Linked DNA regions of Homo sapiens. The protein of the gene in region 1 interacts with the protein of each later gene in a biochemical or structural test. Each region holds a gene or a part of one and is shown in the gene's direction. Other genes may lie near its edges. The genes, in order: SERPINA5, KLKB1, PROC and ACR.

Region 1 (3,500 bases):
GGGTCTCAAACATGTAGCCCAGGAGAGCCTAAGTGAACCTGGGGCCCTCTCCAAACAGATCCTGGGGGAGACTCAGTGCACACCCGGAGAAGCAGCTCCTCCCCATCGGATCTCTAGTGCTTGGCAGGGGGCGGGGTCTTGAGGGGGTGTCCACAACACATGGCAGACTGCAGATGAAGAAACTGAGGCCCAGAGGGGGTGAGGCTTGCCCAGGGTGACCTAGTAGCTGAATAGATGGGAGAATGGAGGCCAGGGCCTCACTGAGACTCTCTGGTCAGCTGCCCCTGGGCTGTATCCAATAAGGAAACTCCCCTGCTTCTGAAGCTGTTCTCGAAATTATCAGCTCAGTGTGACCCTGTGGGGGGTTGAGCCACATTGTTTCTTTAGAAGCATCTCCATACATGGCTGGTTCCAACCCTTGGCAGGAGGGACCATATTGTGCTGTAAAATAGACTCATTTAGAGAAGCCGGAGATTAAAGCACCCACCTATGTCCTTCAAAGCTCTCCAGGCAAGTGCCATGGTGGGAACAGGTAGGGAGTGTCAGTGGGGGGAAGCCCAGACTCTGCTCACTCATTATCTGCAGATTAGGGCTATTGTTGGTGGCTACTAAGTCAGGGATTTCAAAATCAGGAAGATGCAGCCAGGAAAAGAGGAGGCAGGACTCTGCAGAGGAGGCAGGACTCTGCAGAGTCAGAGTGATAACCGAGTCTGAGTCCAAGCTTTGCCAGTGTTAGCAAGCGACTCCATCTCTCTGAACCTCGGATTACCCATCTGTAAAATAGAGCTAGCAGCAAGATGTACCTTTTTGGGTGGTGCAGGGCTGAAGGAGTTGGCACAGTGCCTGAAAGAGGGTGCGGGCAATGCGCCCAACTGCTGTGGCTGCTGGGTTTGGTGCCAGGTTCGATTCTGCAGGCAGAAACTTCTACATGAGGCTCCTTCTCGGAAGGAGCTCAGGACACAATTTGGAGGCTGGGCTGGCAAGGGTGACCTGCTGGAGCTATTCAACTTCACTTAAAGACAGGCCTGCAGTCCAAGCCTGCCCAATTCCTGAGACCATTCTCTCTCCACTGCTGAGCCCCACGGCCACTCTGCAAGGGATTTCCCACCCACCTGTTTGGGGCCCTTTGGAGTTTGGTTTTAATTGGGTCACGGGATGCTGTGACAGGCTGCCCCTGCCTGGTGGGGATCTGGGGTCACTGATGACATTGTGCCCATGGAGAGAGCCCAGCAGAAAGGGATTCCCTCCAAGGCGACACACAGGGCAAAGCTCACATCAGAAGCCAGGCAGGCCCTCTGCACCTGGTAATTAGCCAGCCTGGGTGCTGTCAGGCTCACACGTGTGTGTGTGTGTGTGTGTGTGTGTGTGTGTGTGTGTGTAAAGCATGTACCCTATGGTACAGTTGAGAATATGGAGGCCTCAGATGGGGCTTTTGCCAGAAACTGCCATGCCTACTGCTCACACTTCCATAGCACGTGCCCCCAAGCACCCCATGGTGTAGGTGCTGTTATTATCACTATCTTACAGTTATGGAGCAGTGGCTCAAGGTGTAACTGACTTGCCCAAAATCACACTACAAGGACACAGCAGGGCTGAGATTTGAACCCAGGCAGTGGCTTCAGAGCCTGAGCTGTTTCCTACTGCAGAGGGAGGAGGCAAGACTTCTACCCGTAGCCAGATGGGGAGGCATGGGCACAGGAACGGCTCTTGGGTGAAGTGGAGGGAGGAAGAGGAGGACTGAAGGCCAAGGCCACGTCAGGAGTGATGGGAGACCCCACAAAGGCCTCCCTGAGAAGAGCTAGAGACAAAGATGAGTGCCTCCTCATCTGGAAGATGAAAAGATGTCTTTGCCTGCATGGGCTGCTGTCACAAAGTCCCAGGGGCTAGGGGGCTTCAACAACAGAAATTTCTTTCTTTACAACTCTGGAAGCTGGAAGTCTGAGATTAAGGCACCAGCAGGATTTGTTCCTTCCAAGGCCCCTCTCCTTGGCTCACAGGTGGCTGCCTTCTCCCTGTCTTCACCTGGTCTTCCCTCTGTGCATGTCTCTATCCTGATCTCCTCTTTTTAATTTTTGTGTAAGGACGTAGTCATATTGGGTTGGGGCCCACTCTAGTGACCTCATTCTAACTCAGTCCCCTCTTTAAAAGCCCTATCTCCAGATATAGTCACATTCTGGGGTATTGAAGGTAAGGACTTCAGCATATGCATTTTGGGGGCACAATTCAGCCAGAACAGGAGGACGGTGGGGATGTCCACATGAAGAGGTTCAGGCAGAATTCCTTTAGGAGGGGAAGATGTCTCTCTGTGGGACAAGGGTGGCATGGAGCAGCCCCTGGGGGAAGGAGAAGGGGACAGTTTGCATACTGGTATTCTGCCTACCCCAGGGTGGACACTCACTCAGCGTTTGCTGAATGAACAGGGCAAGGCCAGCAGTGCTGATGGTCCCAGGCATGTAGCTGGTCTGAGTTCATAGAAGGACCACAGCGCCCTGCCATGTGCCAAACCAGGACACCAGAGTGAAGGCCAGAAGCTCACATGGAAGCAGCTTAGTTCCCTGGTAACCTCGAGATGCTGATGAGACAGAGCAGAGCAGAGGGAACCCTCTCCCTCCATATCCCATCCTCCAAAATGTGTCCCTTGATGTGGATGGGTAGACAGGATTCCTGCCCTGGCAGCCAGACCCCTGCCTTGGGTCTGCACCTCCTCTCCCTCCTTCCTCTCCCCGTCATCCCTAAATCTTGTCCTCGAGCCACTGCCACCCTGTGTAAACCCTCATGCCCAGTCTTGCGGGTGCCATCCCTTCTCTTTGAAGCTGAATGGACCAAACATACCCATTGAGTGTTGGGTGGGGACATCTCTGGAAAGTCAGCACCTGGACCAGCTCCACCCCTCTCTGAGGACACCTTCTTTCCCTTTCAGAACAAAGAACAGCCACCATGCAGCTCTTCCTCCTCTTGTGCCTGGTGCTTCTCAGCCCTCAGGGGGCCTCCCTTCACCGCCACCACCCCCGGGAGATGAAGAAGAGAGTCGAGGACCTCCATGTAGGTGCCACGGTGGCCCCCAGCAGCAGAAGGGACTTTACCTTTGACCTCTACAGGGCCTTGGCTTCCGCTGCCCCCAGCCAGAGCATCTTCTTCTCCCCTGTGAGCATCTCCATGAGCCTGGCCATGCTCTCCCTGGGGGCTGGGTCCAGCACAAAGATGCAGATCCTGGAGGGCCTGGGCCTCAACCTCCAGAAAAGCTCAGAGAAGGAGCTGCACAGAGGCTTTCAGCAGCTCCTTCAGGAACTCAACCAGCCCAGAGATGGCTTCCAGCTGAGCCTCGGCAATGCCCTTTTCACCGACCTGGTGGTAGACCTGCAGGACACCTTCGTAAGTGCCATGAAGACGCTGTACCTGGCAGACACTTTCCCTACCAACTTTAGGGACTCTGCAGGGGCCATGAAGCAGATCAATGATTATGTGGCAAAGCAAACGAAGGGCAAGATTGTGGACTTGCT
Region 2 (3,593 bases), on another chromosome or scaffold:
ACTTGCTTTCTTGTTAAATTGCAGTGAGTTCACATGTGATTTAATCGGATCAAATGGCCTTTACAGACTGATAAAAATATGGCTGTTTCAGGTGGTGTTTTGAGCTGCTAAGGGCGTGGCTTTTCACTGAGTACGTGGTCCCCGTTCCTCAGGGAACACCCAGTAGCCACATGCCTCCTAAACCTAGAGTAGGGCTGTCTCCTGGCCTAACTGCCCAAATGAGATTCATAAGTTAGGGATGATCTGTAGTTATCACTACAGATTTGTCCTTGGTTTCACCAAGGATTTTCCTAATTTTACAAACAAAACCCCTAAGGCTCCTGGAAGGAGGGTAGAAGTGAAGGTGCTCCGGGGGCAACACAGCTGATGAGCTGAACCAGAACTCGACCCTTGGGTCACACACATTTCACAGTGCTCACTCCACCTTTTGTTTTTTTAATGGATTTAATGGTGTTTTAAAGCCTCCTGCCTCTCAACACATATGAATTCATTATATTTACAGATTTCCTTCTCTTGTGGTCCATCTTCCTGCATAGATCTTGAGAGATGTCAGGCTAACCACGTTTCCTCAGTTAATTTAACAAAACCATTTGCAACTCTGACATGGAAAATTCCTACCATGTGACTTATTAATTTATCAATTGAGATGGTACACATATTTTCAAGCCAAAAGGAGGAAAACATAAATTGGAAAAAAAAGGTTTTTTTATTTTTATCACCTCTGGGGAAGAAAGTCTGATAAACGAAGCTGGTTGATAAAATTGCAATTAGGGGAAGCAACATCATGGTTTCTGTTCGGAGGCTAACCAGATGGCATACTTGAAATAGAGAATGTCCTAGAAATCAACTGGTTGCTTGGCCAAAATATCTATAAATAGTGCCCAACATATTAGATAGGAAAAGCAAAGTAAAAACAATTTTAACAGGTTAGGACATTGGGCTGAAGTATTGCATATATTTAATGTCATGTGCGTCCGTGTGAAGAGACCACTAAACAGGCTTTGTGTGAGCAAGAAAGCTTTTTAATCACCTGGGTGCAGGCAGGCTGAGTCCGAAAAGAGAGTCAGTGAAGGGAGATGGGGTGGGGACGTTTTATAGGATTTGGGTAGGTAGTGGAAAATTACAGTCAAAGGGGGTTGTTCTCTGGCGGGCAGCGGTGGGGGGTCACAAGGTGCTCAGTGGGGGAGCTTCTGAGCCAGGAGAAGGAATTTCACAAGGTAACGTCATCAGTTAAGGCAGGAACCGGCCATTTTCACTTCTTTTGTCTTTCTTCAGTTACTTCAGGTCATCTAGATGTATACGTGCAGGCCTGGGCCCAGAGGCCTGACATTCCTGTCTTCTTATATTAATAAGAAAAAGAAAACGAAATAGTGGTAAAGTGTTGGGGTGGCGAAAGTTTTTGGGGGTGGTATGGAGAGATAATGGGCGATGTTTCTCAGGGCTGCTTCGAGCGGGATTAGGGGCGGCGTGGGAACCTACAGTGGGAGAGATGAAGCTGAAGGAATATTTTATGGTAAGGGGTGATATTGTGGGGTTGTTAGAAGCAGCATTTGTCATATAGAATGATTGGTGATGGCCTGGATATGGTTTTGTGTGAAATGAGAAACTAAATGGAAGACACAAGGTCTGAATAAGAGAAGGAGAAAAACAGGTGTTAAAGGACTAAGAATTGGGAGGACCCAGGACATCTAATTAGAGAGTGCCTAAGGGGGTTCAGTGTAATTACTTGCTTGGTTGGTGAGTTTTTGGGCTCTATCCTTGACAGAGTCCTCCTTTTTAAGTTGGAGGCTGAGCTTGGTGAGGTGTGTTTTTAAAAGACCATTAGTCTGTTCTACCTTTCCTGAAGATTGAGGATGGTGAGGGGTATGAAGGTTTTACTGAATACCAAGAGCCTGAGAAACTGCTTGGGTGATTTGACTAATAAAGGCCGGTCTGTTATCGGATTGTATAGAGATGGAAAGGCCAAACTGAGGAATTATGTCTGACAGAAGGGAAGAAATGACCACGGTGGCCTTCTCAGACCCTGTGGGAAAGGCCTCTACCCATCCAGTGAAAGTGTCTACCCAGACCAAGAGGTATTTTAGTTTCCTGACTCCGGGTATGTGAGTAAAGTCAATCTGCCAGTCCTGGGCGGGGGCAAATCCCCGAGCTTGATGTGTAGGGAAGGGAGGGGGCCTGAGCAATCCCTGAGGAGGAGTGGAGTAGCAGATGGAACACTGAGCAGTTATTTTTTGAGGATAGATTTTTACGACGGAAAGGAAAAGTGAGGTTTTAAGAGGTGGGTTAGTGGCTTGTAACTTACATGGAAGAGTTTATGAAATGATGACAGAATAGAATGGGCCTGTGAGGCTGGAGGAGATATTTTCCTTGGTCCAAGAATTATTTGCCTTGTGTGGGAAGAGATTGATAGGTGGAAGTTTCAATGGGGGAGTAGATGGGAGTGACAGATGAGGAAGAAAAAAACTGGCTGTGAGGGATAGAAGTTGGAATGCTCGCTGCTTTTTTAGCTACCTTATCAGCATAGGCATTGTCCTGAGCAGTGGGATCTGATGCCTTTTGGTGGCCCTTGCAGTGAATGGCTTCAGCTTCCTTTGGAAGTAAAGTGGCCTTGAGAGGAGTTTTTATTAAAGAGGCATTAAGATGGAGAACCCTTGTGTAGTGAGGAAACCTCCTTCAGCCCATATAACCGCATGGTGGTGCAGAATATGGAAGGCATATTTAGAGTCAGTATAAATATTGACACGTAGTCCCTTTGCAAGAGTGAGGGCCTGAGTTAAGGCAATGAGTTCAGCTTGCTGAGAGGTAGTGGAGCGGGGCAGAGCAGTAGCCTCAGTGATAGATGTGGAAGATACTACAGCATAGCCTGCCTTTGCTGGTGAGTGGTGATTAGGCCTGGTGGAACTGCCATCAATAAACCAAGTGTGATCAGGGTAAGGAACAGGAAAGAAGGAAATATGGGGAAATGGAGTGGATGTCAGGTGGATCAGAGAGATACAGTCATGGGGGTGGGGGCCAGCCTAAAACAGTAAGGTCAAGTTGTTTGAACAGAAAGGCTACAGGGCGTGGTCCTGGCTCTTGTGTAAGAATTTTGACTGCGCAGCCCTGCACTTCGGCTGTGTGTAATGAAAAGGGTTGGGATGAGTTAGGGAGAGCTAGTGTGGGAGCAGTTTCTAGGGCTGTTTTTAAGGAATGGCAAGAGGAGTGGCTAAAGGATTTAGGATCTTTGGGGTCAGCTAGCTTTGCTTTTGTGAGTTTATATAATGGTTTAGTCAGGATGGTAAAACTTAGTATCCAAAGGCGGAAGTACTTAACCATACCTAGGAAGAAAAGGAGTTGTTTTGTAGAAGGGGTTGGGGTTTGGGAGATGAGCCAGACACAATCAGCAGGGAGAGCACATGTGTTTTCATGAAGAATTATGCCGAGATAGGTAATGGATGAGGAAGAAATTTGGGCTTGACTGAAGTAATGGGGGCTGTCCTCGAAGCCTTGTGGCAGTACAGCCCAAGTAAGTTGCTGAGGCTGACGGGTGTCAGGGTCAGTCCAAGTGAAAGCGAAGAGAGGCTGGGATGAAGGGTGCAAAGGAATAGTAAAGA
Region 3 (3,593 bases), on another chromosome or scaffold:
TTTTCCAAAATGTGGATGACACAGTAAGGCCACCATGGGTCCAGAGGATGAGGCTCAGGGGCGAGCTGGTAACCAGCAGGGGCCTCGAGGAGCAGGTGGGGACTCAATGCTGAGGCCCTCTTAGGAGTTGTGGGGGTGGCTGAGTGGAGCGATTAGGATGCTGGCCCTATGATGTCGGCCAGGCACATGTGACTGCAAGAAACAGAATTCAGGAAGAAGCTCCAGGAAAGAGTGTGGGGTGACCCTAGGTGGGGACTCCCACCAGCCACAGTGTAGGTGGTTCAGTCCACCCTCCAGCCACTGCTGAGCACCACTGCCTCCCCGTCCCACCTCACAAAGAGGGGACCTAAAGACCACCCTGCTTCCACCCATGCCTCTGCTGATCAGGGTGTGTGTGTGACCGAAACTCACTTCTGTCCACATAAAATCGCTCACTCTGTGCCTCACATCAAAGGGAGAAAATCTGATTGTTCAGGGGGTCGGAAGACAGGGTCTGTGTCCTATTTGTCTAAGGGTCAGAGTCCTTTGGAGCCCCCAGAGTCCTGTGGACGTGGCCCTAGGTAGTAGGGTGAGCTTGGTAACGGGGCTGGCTTCCTGAGACAAGGCTCAGACCCGCTCTGTCCCTGGGGATCGCTTCAGCCACTAGGACCTGAAAATTGTGCACGGCCTGGGCCCCCTTCCAAGGCATCCAGGGATGCTTTCCAGTGGAGGCTTTCAGGGCAGGAGACCCTCTGGCCTGCACCCTCTCTTGCCCTCAGCCTCCACCTCCTTGACTGGACCCCCATCTGGACCTCCATCCCCACCACCTCTTTCCCCAGTGGCCTCCCTGGCAGACGCCACAGTGACTTTCTGCAGGCACATATCTGATCACATCAAGTCCCCACCGTGCTCCCACCTCACCCATGGTCTCTCAGCCCCAGCAGGCCTTGGCTGGCCTCTCTGATGGAGCAGGCATCAGGCACAGGCCGTGGGTCTCAACGTGGGCTGGGTGGTCCTGGACCAGCAGCAGCCGCCGCAGCAGCAACCCTGGTACCTGGTTAGGAACGCAGACCCTCTGCCCCCATCCTCCCAACTCTGAAAAACACTGGCTTAGGGAAAGGCGCGATGCTCAGGGGTCCCCCAAAGCCCGCAGGCAGAGGGAGTGATGGGACTGGAAGGAGGCCGAGTGACTTGGTGAGGGATTCGGGTCCCTTGCATGCCAGAGGCTGCTGTGGGAGCAGACAGTCGCGAGAGCAGCACTGCAGCTGCATGGGGAGAGGGTGTTGCTCCAGGGACGTGGGATGGAGGCTGGGCGCGGGCGGGTGGCGCTGGAGGGCGGGGGAGGGGCAGGGAGCACCAGCTCCTAGCAGCCAACGACCATCGGGCGTCGATCCCTGTTTGTCTGGAAGCCCTCCCCTCCCCTGCCCGCTCACCCGCTGCCCTGCCCCACCCGGGCGCGCCCCCTCCGCACACCGGCTGCAGGAGCCTGACGCTGCCCGCTCTCTCCGCAGCTGGCCTTCTGGTCCAAGCACGTCGGTGAGTGCGTTCTAGATCCCCGGCTGGACTACCGGCGCCCGCGCCCCTCGGGATCTCTGGCCGCTGACCCCCTACCCCGCCTTGTGTCGCAGACGGTGACCAGTGCTTGGTCTTGCCCTTGGAGCACCCGTGCGCCAGCCTGTGCTGCGGGCACGGCACGTGCATCGACGGCATCGGCAGCTTCAGCTGCGACTGCCGCAGCGGCTGGGAGGGCCGCTTCTGCCAGCGCGGTGAGGGGGAGAGGTGGATGCTGGCGGGCGGCGGGGCGGGGCTGGGGCCGGGTTGGGGGCGCGGCACCAGCACCAGCTGCCCGCGCCCTCCCCTGCCCGCAGAGGTGAGCTTCCTCAATTGCTCGCTGGACAACGGCGGCTGCACGCATTACTGCCTAGAGGAGGTGGGCTGGCGGCGCTGTAGCTGTGCGCCTGGCTACAAGCTGGGGGACGACCTCCTGCAGTGTCACCCCGCAGGTGAGAAGCCCCCAATACATCGCCCAGGAATCACGCTGGGTGCAGGGTGGGCAGGCCCCCTGACGGGGCGCGGCGCGGGGGGCTCAGGAGGGTTTCTAGGGAGGGAGCGAGGAACAGAGTTGAGCCTTGGGGCAGCGGCAGACGCGCCCCAACACCGGGGCCACTGTTAGCGCAATCAGCCCGGGAGCTGGGCGCGCCCTCCGCTTTCCCTGCTTCCTTTCTTCCTGGCGTCCCCGCCTTCCTCCGGGCGCCCCCTGCGCACCTGGGGCCACCTCCTGGAGCGCAAGCCCAGTGGTGGCTCCGCTCCCCAGTCTGAGCGTATCTGGGGCGAGGCGTGCAGCGTCCTCCTCCATGTAGCCTGGCTGCGTTTTTCTCTGACGTTGTCCGGCGTGCATCGCATTTCCCTCTTTACCCCCTTGCTTCCTTGAGGAGAGAACAGAATCCCGATTCTGCCTTCTTCTATATTTTCCTTTTTATGCATTTTAATCAAATTTATATATGTATGAAACTTTAAAAATCAGAGTTTTACAACTTTTACATTTCAGCATGCTGTTCCTTGGCATGGGTCCTTTTTTCATTCATTTTCATTAAAAGGTGGACCCTTTTAATGTGGAAATTCCTATCTTCTGCCTCTAGGGACATTTATCACTTATTTCTTCTACAATCTCCCCTTTACTTCCTCTATTTTCTCTTTCTGGACCTCCCATTATTCAGACCTCTTTCCTCTAGTTTTATTGTCTCTTCTATTTCCCATCTCTTTGACTTTGTGTTTTCTTTCAGGGAACTTTCTTTTTTTTCTTTTTTTTTGAGATGGAGTTTCACTCTTGTTGTCCCAGGCTGGAGTGCAATGACGTGATCTCAGCTCACCACAACCTCCGCCTCCTGGATTCAAGCGATTCTCCTGCCGCAGCCTCCCGAGTAGCTGGGATTACAGGCATGCGCCACCACGCCCAGCTAATTTTGTGTTTTTAGTAGAGAAGGGGTTTCTCCGTGTTGGTCAAGCTGGTCTTGAACTCCTGACCTCAGGTGATCCACCTGCCTTGGCCTCCTAAAGTGCTGGGATTACAGGCGTGAGCCACCGCGCCCAGCCTCTTTCAGGGAACTTTCTACAACTTTATAATTCAATTCTTCTGCAGAAAAAAATTTTTGGCCAGGCTCAGTAGCTCAGACCAATAATTCCAGCACTTTGAGAGGCTGAGGTGGGAGGATTGCTTGAGCTTGGGAGTTTGAGACTAGCCTGGGCAACACAGTGAGACCCTGTCTCTATTTTTAAAAAAAGTAAAAAAAGATCTAAAAATTTAACTTTTTATTTTGAAATAATTAGATATTTCCAGGAAGCTGCAAAGAAATGCCTGGTGGGCCTGTTGGCCTGTGGGTTTCCTGCAAGGCCTTGGGAAGGCCCTGTCATTGGCAGAACCCCAGATCGTGAGGGCTTTCCTTTTAGGCTGCTTTCTAAGAGGACTCCTCCAAGCTCTTGGAGGATGGAAGACGCTCACCCATGGTGTTCGGCCCCTCAGAGCAGGGTGGGGCAGGGGAGCTGGTGCCTGTGCAGGCTGTGGACATTTGCATGACTCCCTGTGGTCAGCTAAGAGCACCACTCCTTCCTGAAGC
Region 4 (2,411 bases), on another chromosome or scaffold:
CAGCAGATCCCGTCCGCAGCTGAGCCGAGGAGTTCTGAAGAGGGACAAGAAGCAGGGGGAGTGGCTTACAGCCAGACTGTGGGAGTGGACAGTGTGTCTCAGACTGGAGTCTGGAGAGGAGCAGTCCTGAGGCCAGGCTGCAGCCCCACCACCTCTCTACTGTGACCTGGGTGGGCGGTGCTCCAGCCTTCTGATCCAAAATGGGAATAACGGGACCATGTGACTCAGGGAGTGCTTGGTGCACACTAGGTGTTATTGGTAATACTGCAACTAACCTCCATAATCCATCGTTAATACGCACACCCACCCCCCATCCACCTGTCCACGGGCCTCCACCCTTCCTTCCTCTCTTCCTCTCTCCTCTGGCCTTGATTTGGATAACATTTCCCCACCTCCTCCCACCACCTCTAGTCTGCTCTTTCTGGTGTATAAGGAGGGGTCGGGGCATCGACTGGATGGGTCTGAGGTTTAACTGGAGCATCACAGAGGATGGGGTTCGGTGGGGCAAGGAGGCAGGGCTTTTGTCCGTGTCTCCCGTGATCACTGACCACCGAGTGGTCTGACTATAGCCCCCAGGCCATCATCTATACTGATGGAGGCACGTGTGGATCTCATCGACCTGGACTTGTGTAACTCGACCCAGTGGTACAATGGGCGCGTTCAGCCAACCAATGTGTGCGCGGGGTATCCTGTAGGCAAGATCGACACCTGCCAGGTAACCTTCCTTCTGGCTTCTGGGCCCCTGGGTCCCTCCAGGACTCTCCCGGCCCCTGAGAACATCCTCCTTTTGGATCCCCAAGCTCCACTATCTCCACTGCTCTGCCCAGGGCCCTTCTCTAGTGACTGCTTCCCCGGTCCCTTTTCTAGCACCTACTCTCACAGTGGGGATGAGCGGTGACAGCCACCGGCTGCCCCTGCCATGTGCCCCTGTGGACACGTGGGTTTGCTCATCTCACTGCAAGGAAAGCCCTGACAATTCACACCCTCCTCACATCCCAAATGAAGCCCCTGACACCCCCTCAAACTTTACTACAACCACTTGTGTTTACAGCAGCAGGAGACCATGTCACTGTGGAAATTGTCCTCCCAGAGCCTTCCGACCCCTCTGGGCAGGGGAAGAGTGGCTCAGGCAGATAGTGACCTCTGTGTCCTTCTGGACAGGGAGACAGCGGCGGGCCTCTCATGTGCAAAGACAGCAAGGAAAGCGCCTATGTGGTCGTGGGAATCACAAGCTGGGGGGTAGGCTGTGCCCGTGCCAAGCGCCCCGGAATCTACACGGCCACCTGGCCCTATCTGAACTGGATCGCCTCCAAGATTGGTTCTAACGCTTTGCGTATGATTCAATCGGCCACCCCTCCACCTCCCACCACTCGACCGCCCCCGATTCGACCCCCCTTCTCCCACCCTATCTCTGCTCACCTTCCTTGGTATTTCCAACCGCCCCCTCGACCACTTCCACCCCGACCACCGGCAGCCCAGCCCCGACCCCCACCTTCACCCCCGCCCCCACCCCCACCTCCAGCCTCACCTTTACCCCCACCCCCACCCCCACCCCCACCTACACCCTCATCTACCACAAAACTTCCCCAAGGACTTTCTTTTGCCAAGCGCCTACAGCAGCTCATAGAGGTCTTGAAGGGGAAGACCTATTCCGACGGAAAGAACCATTATGACATGGAGACCACAGAGCTCCCAGAACTGACCTCGACCTCCTGATCTGACCTGGTTCTCAACAGACCCAGTGAGCCCTTCACTCCTGAGAAAAAGGAAAGATGAAATAAATAAATAAACATATATATATAGATATACACACACACATATCTGTATGTATACATGCATATACATCAAGAGATGCTTTCTGGACTTCTTCCTATCCCCCCTCCCAACCCAAATTTCCCCTATAAAATCTACCCTCTCTCCTTCACCCTACAATAAGGCGGAATTGCTTGTACATTAGTGCCAATCGTGTTTTTTAAAATCTTGATTTTTAATGCTGGAATAAGGTGACCTGGGGCCGTAGACCGGGGATGGTCTTTATTTCACACTTAGGGAGAAACGACAAATGGTGAAAATAAAAGAGCCATCTCTGCATGTGCAAGTCAAAGGGGGTGGACCCCCAAAGCAGCAGCTGTGAGTGAGCTGACGGGGAAAGAGGGGGTGTGGGTCCAAGTCTTCTATCAGGAGGCTGGTGGTGTTGACACCCACAGAGAAGATTCTGCATGAAGGTTGAACTCCCCAGAACACAAAGGCTAAGGAGGCCACTAGGCCACCAAAACAAGTGTCTACTACCAAACACAATTTTGCTTGTGGCTTGTTAGTGTCCAGTTGACACCAACAAGCCTGTTCATTACTTGCCTGTAGTTAAATCTTATTAGTTCCTGGATTTGAGCAAATTAAAAAATGTATTCTTT

The links.
Region 2: the proteins of SERPINA5 (region 1) and KLKB1 form a complex in vitro, tested with the Homo sapiens proteins (one study listed by BioGRID).
Region 3: the proteins of SERPINA5 (region 1) and PROC form a complex in vitro, tested with the Homo sapiens proteins (one study listed by BioGRID).
Region 4: the proteins of SERPINA5 (region 1) and ACR form a complex in vitro, tested with the Homo sapiens proteins (one study listed by BioGRID).

What each region holds. Positions count from the first base shown.
Region 1 is NC_000014.9:94,584,426-94,587,925, forward strand, and holds part of SERPINA5 (plasma serine protease inhibitor preproprotein), read left to right. Parts: intron 1-2,920; 5' UTR 2,921-2,937; coding exon 2,938-3,500. UniProt on the Homo sapiens protein: Heparin-dependent serine protease inhibitor acting in body fluids and secretions. Inactivates serine proteases by binding irreversibly to their serine activation site. Involved in the regulation of intravascular and extravascular proteolytic activities.
Region 2 is NC_000004.12:186,240,994-186,244,586, forward strand, and holds part of KLKB1 (plasma kallikrein isoform 1 preproprotein), read left to right. Parts: intron 1-3,593. UniProt on the Homo sapiens protein: Participates in the surface-dependent activation of blood coagulation. Activates, in a reciprocal reaction, coagulation factor XII/F12 after binding to negatively charged surfaces.
Region 3 is NC_000002.12:127,421,427-127,425,019, forward strand, and holds part of PROC (vitamin K-dependent protein C isoform 10 preproprotein), read left to right. Parts: coding exon 1-23; intron 24-1,490; coding exon 1,491-1,515; coding exon of another isoform or gene 1,516-1,607; coding exon 1,608-1,745; coding exon of another isoform or gene 1,746-1,847; coding exon 1,848-1,982; intron 1,983-2,110; exon of another isoform or gene 2,111-2,192; intron 2,193-3,273; exon of another isoform or gene 3,274-3,593. UniProt on the Homo sapiens protein: Protein C is a vitamin K-dependent serine protease that regulates blood coagulation by inactivating factors Va and VIIIa in the presence of calcium ions and phospholipids. Exerts a protective effect on the endothelial cell barrier function.
Region 4 is NC_000022.11:50,743,492-50,745,902, forward strand, and holds the end of ACR (acrosin precursor), read left to right. Parts: intron 1-569; coding exon 570-715; intron 716-1,161; coding exon 1,162-1,716; 3' UTR 1,717-1,848; downstream 1,849-2,411. UniProt on the Homo sapiens protein: Acrosin is the major protease of mammalian spermatozoa. It is a serine protease of trypsin-like cleavage specificity, it is synthesized in a zymogen form, proacrosin and stored in the acrosome.